3 linked regions of the Homo sapiens genome follow. The protein of the gene in region 3 interacts with the protein of the main gene of each other region in a pairwise test. Each region holds a gene or a part of one and is shown on either strand. Other genes may lie near its edges.

Evidence for each region.
Region 1: the proteins of ZNF275 (region 3) and RNF4 interact in binary tests that used the Homo sapiens proteins (3 or more experiments, as listed by UniProt).
Region 2: the proteins of ZNF275 (region 3) and BAHD1 interact in binary tests that used the Homo sapiens proteins (3 or more experiments, as listed by UniProt).

The regions. Positions count from the first base shown.
Region 1 is NC_000004.12:2,503,459-2,507,105, forward strand, and holds part of RNF4 (E3 ubiquitin-protein ligase RNF4), read left to right. Parts: intron 1-3,647. UniProt on the Homo sapiens protein: E3 ubiquitin-protein ligase which binds polysumoylated chains covalently attached to proteins and mediates 'Lys-6'-, 'Lys-11'-, 'Lys-48'- and 'Lys-63'-linked polyubiquitination of those substrates and their subsequent targeting to the proteasome for degradation.
Region 2 is NC_000015.10:40,457,939-40,461,585, forward strand, and holds part of BAHD1 (bromo adjacent homology domain-containing 1 protein), read left to right. Parts: intron 1-512; coding exon of another isoform or gene 513-526; coding exon 527-1,958; intron 1,959-3,647.
Region 3 is NC_000023.11:153,332,617-153,337,040, forward strand, and holds the start of ZNF275 (zinc finger protein 275), read left to right. Parts: upstream 1-1,536; 5' UTR 1,537-1,669; intron 1,670-2,845; exon of another isoform or gene 2,846-2,921; intron 2,922-4,017; 5' UTR 4,018-4,063; coding exon 4,064-4,094; intron 4,095-4,424. UniProt on the Homo sapiens protein: May be involved in transcriptional regulation.

The sequences.
Region 1 (3,647 bases), on a different chromosome or scaffold from region 3:
AGGTTCTGGTCTCTCAGATCTACTGGTCAGTTTGATCAGTGGATTTATCTCACACTGTCCTCAGTGTTGTCAGCCACAAAATAACTGCTTTGGACTTGATAGCTCTTGCTAATCATTCTCTACTTATTTTTGATTTTAATAAGTCCAAGTGCCAGTTTATGAATTTACACTGAGACATATACTTGAGTTTGGAATTCTGCCTCTGAGCAGATCTGTTTGGGAGGCCTCTAATGCTAGTCACTGAGGATAAGGGGCATCTGTAGATGGATCGTGTGTTCAGGGTGACCCTAGGCTGCACCTGCAGGAGAGTATAAAATGGATAAATGTATTCATTCTGGAAGCGGGGTAACCTTCCTTACCAGTTCCGCCAGGACCTGTCGAATAGTTTGAGTGCACTGCTTTAGCTCCAGTAGCTCTGTACCTGTAATATAGGAATCCCTGGATACCAGGATCCAGAGGTAGCCGTCAGAACATCAGGGAACCCTCTAAACTTTGTGCCTGTGGTCCCAGCTACTGGGAAGGCTGAGCAAGGAGGATCACTTGAACTCAGGAGTTCAAGGCAAGCCTGGGCAACATAGTGAGACCCTGTCTTCTTCAAAAAAGAAAAAAAGACTGGAAACTTTGCATACAGGTGTGCACATTCTTCCAACTTTCGAAGGAATTCAAAGCCCCTGAAAAATGAAGGGAAATGAAAAATGCGGTAAGATGCAGTGAGAGACTTTGTTCATCTCATTTGATTAGTTTCCCTCAAAATGAACTTTCATTTTTGGCATTGCATAGCCTAGAAAAGGCATCACTGCTGTGTCCCGAGGTGTGAGTGTCTTTGATTTTTACTGGATAAATGCCAGACTTTTCTAAAGAGGGAGCAGTTCACATTCATGCCAGTGTTTGAGGTTCTCCACATCCTCATGGCCACTTTTAATTTTAGCCATTCTGATGCTTGTCCAGTGGTGTCTCATTGTGGTTTTAATTTGTGCTTTTTTATTACAAATGGGATCAAACACCTTTTCATGTTTATTTTTCTCTTTTGTGAAGTGCCTGTTTAAAACTTCTTTGTTTTATAGCTTTTATTTATTTATTTATTTATTTATTTATTTATTTATTTATTTTGAGACAGAGTCTTGCACTGTTACCCAGGCTGGAGTGCAGTGGCGTGATCTTGGCTCACTGTAAGCTCTGCCTCCTGGGTTCACGCCATTCTCCTGCCTCAGCCTCCAGAGTAGCTGGGACTACAGGCAGCCGCCACCATGCCCGGCTCATTTTTTGTATTTTTTTTTTTTTTTTTTTTTGAGACAGAGTCTCACTCTGTCACCCAGGCTGGAGTGCAGTGGCACGATCTCAGTTCACTCAGTTCACCTCCGCCTCCCGGGTTCAAGCAATTCTCCTGCCTCAGCCTATTGAGTAGCTGGGACTACAGGCACGCACCACCATGCCAGGCTAATTTTTTATATTTTTAGTAGAGATGGGGTTTCACCATGTTGCCCAGGCTGTTCTTGAACTCCTGACCTCAGGTGATCCACTCGCCTTGGCCTCCCAAAGTGCTGGGATTATAAGCATGAGCCGCTGCACCTGGCTGTTACATAGCTTTTTTTTATGCAACTTTCGTATATAAACTTTTTTCATCATAAATAGGACTTTTCACTTTAGTACCTAGCTCATCCCAGTAGCTTTTCCAGAACTGCTGTCTTCACCACAAAGCTCCCTACGTTTTCCCAATGCAAACCTGAGTGTTTTTAGCATTTTAACTTTCCTCACAGAGAAGACATCGTGGAGCGGATAAATAGATTTGCAGGCATTTCTGTGTCTTCTCCAGTGCTGTCTGGAATAATTTTCTCCACCACTTCTTTCAAGTTATTTGTCTGCATCTCTCTTTTTTTTTTTTTTTGAGATGGAGTCTCGCTCTGTTGCCCAAGCTGGAGTACAGTGGTGCGATCTTGGCTCACTGCCAGCTCCGCCTCCTGGGTTCACACCATTCTCCTGCCTCAGCCTCCAGAGTAGCTGGGACTACAGGTGCCCGCCACCACACCCGGCTAATTTTTTGTATTTTTAGTAGAGACGGGGTTTCACCATGTTAGCCAGGATGGTCTCGATCTCCTGACCTCGTGATCCGCCCGCCTCGGCCTCCCAAAGTGCTGGGATTATAGGTGTGAGCCACCGCGCCCGGCCTTGGGTCATGATTTCCATCATCTTAGACCTGTTGGTGCTGAGGTTTTCTTTAACCATTGGTAGTCTAGACATCAACATGAGCTTCAATCATGGTCTGCCTTTTTTTTTTTTTTTTTTTTTTTTTTTTTTGAGACGGTTTCTCACTGTCACTCAGGCTAGAATGCAGTAGCGTGATCTCAGCTCACTGCAGCCTCTGCCTCCTGGGTAGCTGGGACTATAGGCATGCACCACCACGCCCAGCTAATTTTTGTATTTTTTGTAGAGACAGGATTTTGCCATGTTGTCCAGGCTGGTCTCGAACTCCTGACCTCAAGTGATCCACCCGGGTGGTCTGCCATTTTTAAATCACACAACACATTTTGTCATGGGTAAGACCCACGCATGGAAGCTAGGCAGTTTTTGCCCTGAACATCTTGAACAGTCAGCTTGAGTTTTCTGCAAGTCAGCAAGCCTTCAAACATAACCCTTGAGGCCATCAGATACAGTTTTGGTTCCTTGAGTCCTATAAACTTTTTAAATCGTTGAAAAAATTGAACTAGAACAAAGCAAACCATTTGTTGTTTTCTTTTTCCCCCCTGAGACAGAGTCTCGCTCTGTCGCCCACGCTGGAGTGCAGTGGCACAGTCTTGGCTCACTGCAACCTCCATCTCCAGGGTGCCAGCGATTCCCATGTCTCAGCCTCCTGAGTAGCTGGGATTACAGGTACACACCACCACGGCCAGCTAATTTTTGTATTTTTAGGAGAGACGGTTTTGCCATGTTGACCAGGCTGGTCTTGAACTCCTGGCCTCAAGTGATATACCTGACTCAGCCTCCCAAAGTGCTAGGATTACAGACGTGAGCCACCATGTCCGGCCTCCTTGGTTGCTTTTTAACAGCAAATAATCTTTTTTTTTTTTCCAAGTTGTGTGCTTTCTCCAAATTTGTTTTTTTTCTTCTTCTTCTTCTTTTTTTTTCCCTTGAAACAGGGTCTCACTTTGTTACCCAGGCTGGAGTGCAGTGGTGCCATCACGGCTCACTGCAGCCTGTACCTTCTGGGCTCAATTGAGCTTCCTGCCTCAGCCTCCTAAGTAGCTGGGACTATAGGGGTATGTCACCATCCCTGGCTGATTTTTTATATTTTTTTGGAGAGACAAGGTCTTACCGTATTGCCCAGGGTGGTCTCAAACTCCTGGGCTCAAGTGATCCTCCCACCTTGGTTTCCCAAAGTGCTGGGATTGTAGTTGTGAGCCACTGAGCCTGACCTTGGGTCACTTTTCATGAGCATTTTCAGTATGCCAGTCTCTGCTCTGGCTAGAAGCAATGCAGTGGTAGAAAAGAGACTGGCAACTCTCTTTAAGGAATCGAGATTCTTTAAGGGGAAGGTTATTGAAAATGTTACTTAGGCTGTTTTTCTTAAATTTCCAAAGATTGTCTCTTAGTAAGGTTGATTTTTCTGGAATCTTTTTTTGGTCTGTTTCTATAATGTATGAATAAGTCAC
Region 2 (3,647 bases), on a different chromosome or scaffold from region 3:
GGAGGCGGAGCTTGCAGTGAGCCAAGATCTCACCAATGCACTCCAGCGAGACTCCGTCTCTCAAAAAAAGAAAAAAAGAAGAAAGAATAAATGGACTTCTACCACCCAGTCCCCCATCTTGGGAGGCTCTGTCTTCAGAGCCTCTTCCTATCCTGTGATGAATATCTAGTGAGAGAAGGACAGGGGGAGAGAACAAAGAGCTTTGCCACCAGCTCCTCCTATCCCCTGTCCCTGGGGTCTGCCTTGCTCCCTAGGCTCTTCAGGGGCTTAGTTCAGAGATACCCTAGGCTAAAAGGAAAGAGGAGGAACCAGTCCTTGCACAGCTGCTGGTAGCTTGATTCCACTGCCCCTTCACACTCTGGAAAGGGAGTCCCAGGAAAATCCATACTGGAGACAGGGTAGTTGTAGGCCAGGATCACTGCACCTGGGGCTGGGTAGGCTGCAGTGGGAGAGAAAGCAGGCAGGAGCAGGCCAGAGAGGGCTTCTCTCATTGCCCACCTTCTGTCCTGCAGGTTGGAAGTACTCCATGACACACACTCGGAGAAAGTCCCTTCCCATGCTGAGTTCGGGCCTCACTGGCCGCCGAGAGCCCCTGCAGATGGAAGACAGCAACATGGAGCAGGGGGTTGAGGGTGTGGAGCCAGGCATGCCCGAGAGCCCAGGTCACCTCACAGGGCGCCGCAAGAATTACCCACTTCGTAAGCGCCCATTGGTTCCTGAGAAGCCCAAGGCCTGCAAAGTGCTGCTGACTCGCCTGGAGAATGTGGCCGGTCCCCGGAGTGCAGATGAGGCTGATGAGCTACCGCCTGACCTGCCCAAGCCCCCCAGCCCGGCCCCATCCAGTGAAGACCCTGGCCTTGCCCAGCCCCGCAAGCGGCGCCTGGCCTCCCTCAATGCTGAAGCTCTCAATAACCTGCTGCTGGAGCGAGAGGACACCAGCAGCCTGGCAGGCACCCGCCGCAGTCGAGCAGGGGATCCCCACCGCAGCCGTGACCGTGATCGTGCTACTGGGGGCTGGTCCTCCTCCAAGAAGCGGCCCCGGCTGGGGGACCTTGGAGGAGGAAGTCGGGACCTGTCTCCAGAGCCAGCACCCGATGAAGGTCCCCGCCGAGATGGAGACCCAGCTCCCAAGAGACTGGCTAGCCTGAACGCAGCTGCTTTCCTAAAACTGAGCCAGGAGCGGGAGCTACCCCTGCGGCTGCCTCGTGCCCATGCAGAAGTAGATGGGCGCTCCACTGAGCCCCCAGCACCCAAGGCCCCGAGGCCAAAGTGGCCCAAGGTCAATGGCAAGAACTATCCCAAGGCTTGGCAGGGGGCCAGCTCTGGGGAGGCTGCAGGCCCACCTGGCTGGCAAGGCTGCCCTGATGAACCATGGCCATCTGCAACTCCTTGTGGGCCATCCGTCCAGCCATCTCATCAGCCCCTGAGCAAGGCTCTGGAGAGCCCTTTGGGGCTGCGCCCTCACCTGCCCCTGCTGATGGGTGGACAGGCGGCTCTGAAGCCGGAGCCTGGGCGCCCAGGCGAGGAGTCACCTGCCCCTAAGCAGGAACTGCATCAGCCCTCTTTCCCCACACCTCAGCTGTCGCCGCTGCCGATGCCTGGCAACCCCGCCGACTACAATGGCCTGTGTGTTGGGCCTGAGCTCACTGCACTAGGCAGCTTCTACCTGTACTGTGGCCAAGAGGGGCTGCAGTGTGGGGGCTACTCGCCCTGCCCCATGCTTCCTGAGGGCAAGCTGTCCCCAGTGGCTGCACCTCACGAGGAGGGGCTCCTCTTAGCTCCGAGCTCAGTGCCCTCAGGCACCCCTTTCCAGCACCCTCCCTGGGGCTCCTCTCGCTACTGCTCTAGCGAGGACACTGGAGTGAATGGCTACAGCATCTGCGGAGTGTTGCCCCTGTCTGTTACCCACGCTGGCACTACCTGTGGCGGCTGCCCATACAAAATGCCTTTTGCAGCAGGTGAGGCTTCCTGGGCCCAAGATGTACTGGGGAGTCTCGGAGACATGGCATCCCAGGAGGTTGGGCTGTTGATCTGAGCAGGGGTCTCCCTTGGGGTCTGGCTGCTAACTGGAAGGTAGGGGGCTTTCAGAAGTGAGAACTCCCGTAGTCTGTGCCCCAAGCCGAGGAGCATTCCCAAGAACAGGGCCCGTATAGCTCTGGACAGCCTTGCTCTGCCCAGGCTACCTTTGGAGATTCTTGGCCTGGCAGTTAGGTAGCATTGCAGTGGTACAGGCCACAGGAAGGCCTCTCTTCTCTCCTCATTGGGATACCCGTTCTTAGACTCTGAAGAGCAGGTTAGATATTGGAATTAGGACTTTTACCAAATTGTTCTCACGGCCCTTCTACCCTCCTTGAGGAAAGCTAGAATTCCCTAGTTTCTAGAAACCAGTACTCTCTGCATGCTGGCCAAGTTCAGCATTCATGGGAAAGGTGGTAGGTACCAGGCTCAGTAGGTGGTACCTACTGCACAGGGCAGCTTTGCCCTGGCTATAGAGGCATTGAAAGAGAAGTGCCCAGACTGAGCATCACTTTGCTGGGTGTGGATAGAGAGGGTGCACCATGAGAACAGACAAGCAGAGTTCCCTGACATGGATGGAATGCGATCAGGGCCCACAGCTTTGGTGTCTGCCTGCCTGACAAGACCCAGACACCTGAGAGGCCCATGCTCCGGCTGTTGAGACACTCCCAGAATCATTTCTCTTCCCTAAACTGGCAGAGGTATCCTCACCTGCCTCTTCAGGCTCCCTGCCTGCCTCCTGGGTGGAAATGAGACATGCTGGCCAGCAGGTCTGCCCTGCTGCTGGGGAGGTGAGGGCTGGACCTTCCAGATCTCCCTTCCCCTGACATCCTTTCTTGTAGGGGTCTATAAAACAACTTTATAGACCAGTTGGCCCTGGCCAGACTGGTTGTTTCAGGTTGTGGCTTGAGTTAGAGTTCTTATGACATGAGAACAGGCTGCTGCTTGGGGTTTTCCTTCTTTTTTTGTGCCATTCCCCAAGTCTAGACCCTTATCCCCTCTCCCTAATAATAAGGACACCAGTAAACACCATGTACCAGGCACTGTTCTGAGTGCTTTACATATGGGAGGCTGCTTGGCATGTAATTGAGCACAGACTCCGAAGCCAGACTGCCTGGAGTGAAATGTTCTCCCCCACTTTCCTAGCCATGTGACTATGGGCGAGTCAGTAACTGCTCTGTGTCTCAGTTTTCTTAACTATAAAATGGGTGTAATGATACCTATCTCACAGGGTTTTTGTAAGGATGAAATGAGTTAATGTGTTCGTAAGAAAACCAGCCAGTTGCTCTGAGGGGCAGAGTGACTTGCCTGAAGTCACATGGCTAGTAAGTGGCAGAACCCAGGCTGATTCTAGAACCCCTATTCCCAAGCATTATGAAAGCCTTAGAAAATTAATATCAGGGCCAGGCGCGGTGGCTCATGCCTGTAATCCTAGCACTTTGGGAGGCTGAGGCGGGCAGATTGCCTGAGCTCAGTAGGTTGAGACCAGCCTGTCTAACATGGTGAAACCCTATCTCTACTAAACATACAAAAAAATTAGCTGGGTGTGGTGATGGGCACCTGTAATCCCAGCTACTCAGGAGGCTGAGGCAGGAGAAATGCTTGAACCCGAGAGGCGGAGGTTGCAGTGA
Region 3 (4,424 bases):
CGTGGAATCAACCTAGGTGATCATCAGTGGTGGATTGGATAAAGAAAATGTGGTAGGCATTCACCACAGAATGCTATGCAGCCATAAAAAAAGAATGAAATCATGTCCTTTGCAGCAACATGGATGCAGCTAGAGGCTGTTATCCTAAGTGAATTAATGCAGGAACATAAAACCAAATGCCACACATTCTCATTTATAAGTGGGAGCTAAACATCGGGTACTCGTGCGCATAAAGATGGGAACAACAAACAATGGGAACTACAAGAGGGGTCAGGGAAGGAGGGGTCAAGGGTTTAAAAACTAACTATTGTGTACTATGTTCAGTACTTGGATGACAGGGTCATTCGTACCCCAAACCTCAACATCACACACTATACCCAGGCAACAAACCTGCACATGTACCCCCTAAATCTAAAATGAAAGTTGAAAACATAAAATTTCTCAGGAACTACATGTGTGTGTATATATATATACATACATACACACACACATATATACACACACATTGCACATAATGGGCTAGCTTTCTCTTTTGTCTCTCTCTCTATATATACACACACACATATATATACATATATATATACTGCACATAACATTGGGCAAACTACTTGAACAGACACTTTACAAAGAAAGATATAGAAATGGCCAGTGAGCACATAAAAGCATACTCAACATAATTAGTCATCAGGGAGATGATAATTGAAATAACAATGAGATGCCACTTCCCACCCTTTCAAATGGCTAAAAATAAAGGCTGACAACCTCAAATGTTGATGAGGATGGGAAAGAAAAGGAGCTCGCATACATTTCTGGTGGGAATGTAAATTGCACAACCACTTTGGAATACATTCTGGCAGTTTCTTATAAAACATAAAACTATCCTGTGATGTGGCAATTCATCTCTTAGGTATTTGCCCAAGAAAAATGAAAGCATATGTCCACACAAAGATGTGTACATGAATATTCATAGTAGCTTTATTTATAATCGCCCAAACTGGAAACAGCCCAGATCATAACCTGGTGAATGAACAAACCAACTCTGATATATCCAAACAATAGCATACTACTCAGCGATAGCACATTCAACAACATAGATAAATCTTGAAAACATCACGTTGAATGAAAGAATCCAGACACACAATAGTACATACGATCTGATTCCATTCATACAGAATACTGGCTTTCCAGTCTTCGCCCTCAGTTCCCGACCCTTCACTCCCCCCACCACCATCTTGAAGATGCCCAAGGGGGAGAGGTCCCTTCCATTCCTTCGTTCCTTCCTTCGTCTGCTGGTCGATTTGTTCGCTCGTTCATTCATTCATTCGCACGCTCATTCCACTCCTCCCCACCTCCACCCAAGCGTCCAGCCCGCGCGCGCCGCTCCCCCGCAGGCTGATCAGACTTGCCTGCCCAGTCCGCCCCCGCCCAAACCCCGCCCCCTTCCCGCCACGCCCCCTTCCCGGGCCAATCGGGGACGAGACTGGGGCCGGGGCGGGGCCTCGCTCCCTCAGAACCCCCGGCGGCGCTCACGGCTCCGGAAACGCGCCGCGGGGCTGTTAGCTCGGCTGGGCACGGGCGGCTCCGTGGCGCTTCCTGCCACGCCAGGCCTGCCTGGGCCGCGCCAGCGCCGCTCCACCGAGGGCCGCGCGTCGGCCGCCGCCGGGCCTGGGTGAGTGTGCGGGCCGCGGGAGGATGTGCGGGGGGCGCTGGAGGGGCCGCAGGGCGGAGGTGATCGTGGGGGCGGCAGGAGGACGTGTGGACCTGAGTGAGCGTGCAGGGCCGCGAGAGGATGTGCAGGGGGTGCAGGACTGTGTGCGGGGCTGGAGCGAGTGTGCGGGCCGCAGAAGAGTGCACGGTGGAGGGAGGGGGCGTCTCTGGGCAGTTGGAGAGCTGCTCGGCCTTGGGCGGGCCAGAGCAGGGAACGGGTCCCGGATGACGAGTACGAAGAGGCCCGAAGGCCTTCCCGAGGCGGGCGGGGGGCGGCGATCCCGGGTGGGAATCGCTAAAGTGTAGAGGCCTGCTCTGCTCTTTGGGGGACGCTAGGAGATGGGAACCGCTCAGGGGCGGAGAGAAAGGACCCCTGCCCCTAGCTCCTAGGAGCCCGATCTGGAGGGGGCATTGTAGGGGTGGGGGTTAAAGGACTTTTCCCTGGTCTAGGGGAGGGACTGAGCCGCAGTCTGGGAGCTGGGAGGGTGGGCCAGGTGGGAACAGTTCCCGCTGGGGAGTCCCTCCTTTCCTTTTGAGTGGGTGGGAGTGGGGGGGGGCGGTTAAGCCTCAGCTTGGTGGGGAGAATGGGGGCCGGTAGGTAGCCTAGAGAGAGAGCTGTGGAGAGGCAGGGGAAAGGGGGCGGTGAGCCGAGCTCAAGGCCCTCTGTCTGAACCAGTCTTTTTCTGTCGCCCTACTGGGGGCCGCCATCTCCCACTTCAGTGCCCCCGCCCCCTTAAACTCCTTTGCTGGCTCCTCCAGTCTATATTTGGGTGATTAATTATATATCTTTTCCACACACACCCCCCACTCGCCTGCCGCCCAAAGTCCATGGTCCCTTTCAAACAACCCCCTGCCCCCATTCCTGGCCCACTTCCCAGAGGTCCCACCCTGCCACCTTGTTCCAACTGAAGCCCTCCAGCCAGCCTTGACCTAGCTGGGCATGCGGCCCCCTCCAGTCTCCTTAGTCAATGAAACATTTCCTCTTCAACCTCAGCCCGACATTTTTCCTTTACAAGAGAATTTCAGATGGGATTGCTGGAACAGCACCTCCCCTAGGTACTAATGCTGCCTCAGCCCCTCCCCACCCTCACCTTCCCCCAACCCTGCAACATTGGACCTTCAAGTAGAAGCCACTTGCACAGTATCTGGCCCAGTTCAGTACATCCCCACAAAATGTTACTAGGGGGATGTACTGAACTGGGTCAGACACTGAGTTTTATATATAGAACCCTATTGAGCAGTAATTTGCAGCCTTCTGTCTGTGAGGGACCCCTTGGAAATCTACCAGAACTTGTGAATTCTCTTCTAACCATCAGCACAGACTCAGAGATAGTGGGCTCCCATTTCAGCAGGTTCCTGGGCAGGAATCCTGTCAGTAACAGAGATTCTGAGAGTTGGAGAATCTGGGAACCTCCAGATTCTAGACAGGCCCAGTGTTAAGGAGGTGCAGCTCTGCATCATAATCTCCTGGGGTGCTTGTTGAAAAATGCAGACTCCTTGGTCTCTCCCAAACCTGCGAAACTCCCACATGAGTTCTTAGTGAACTCCACACCAACTTTCTCACCCAGTGATCCAGCCCTTACCCAAACCTGCCTGGGCTCCTTGGATGGCCCTGGGCTCTTTGCAATTTGCATAGCATCCCACCCCACCCCCAATTTCGACCTTTGTATCCAGGCGATGTTACCTAAAGGAAGCTATACTTAAAATTTATTTCGATTTTTAGTAAGATGCCATGAATCTTCTTGGAGAAATGGGAACACAAAGCTTTCCTCAATTAAGTACAACAAACACTACAAAATCCCCTTCTGGTCTACCTTCTGGCTTTTTATAGAAAGGAAATAAGATAGAAACCCAAACAGAAAGAGACAGGTGCCCAGGCAAAGTGAGAGGAAACAGATGCCTTCCCACCCACACATACAGAAAAAGGCACACACAGACACAAATACCCCAAGAGAGACAGACTTTCCTGGTGAGACACCCTCTCTTTAGGCCCTTCAGGATTCTGCTACTTCGAGTAGCAGCCTGTTTGCTGCTTTGGGACGGGACGGGATGGGCCCACGTGGGGCCTTCACTTCCGCCTCCTGGCCTGTCAGGTGGAAAGAACATGAAGGCCAGGCTCAGCGTGGCCCAGGGCTTGGCTCAAGGGTTGCATCCTGGCCTGGCTAGGGTGGATCCAGATCGTGGCAGTATATATTCAGTTGAACCCTGTATCTGGCCCAGTTCAGTACATCCCCCAAAATGTGGGGGACATGTTCCTGGGAGGTGCACACAGGTCTGCTTCTGTTCACCTGAATTATTGCAATCCAACAGATGGGGCCTTACCTGCCAGGCTGATCCCTTGGAGTAGTTCTGAGGCATGATGAGTCATCCGTGTGTGTCTCTTTTGGGTAAGTCTGGGTGTTTATGCATGGTGTCTGCTGGCTTTGACGCTGGGCATGCTATCAGAAGACCCTATAGGTGGGGTTACAACATGGTGAGGAGTATCGTTTTGGTTCCGGAAGCACTTATATTTTCATCTGTGCCACTGTTGCTGAACTGTCTTTGCCCAGAGACAGTTCTCTCAATCCAAGCAATACAACTCACAGGAGAAAAGATATTCAGGAAAGAGAATCTGGAGTCTAATCTCCCTTTTGGATGGGAGAGGGAGCTGAAGGCATCCATCTGAATTGGATCTTTTGTGAGTGGAAACCTTTGAAGACACCCGTTGCTCTGGCCTA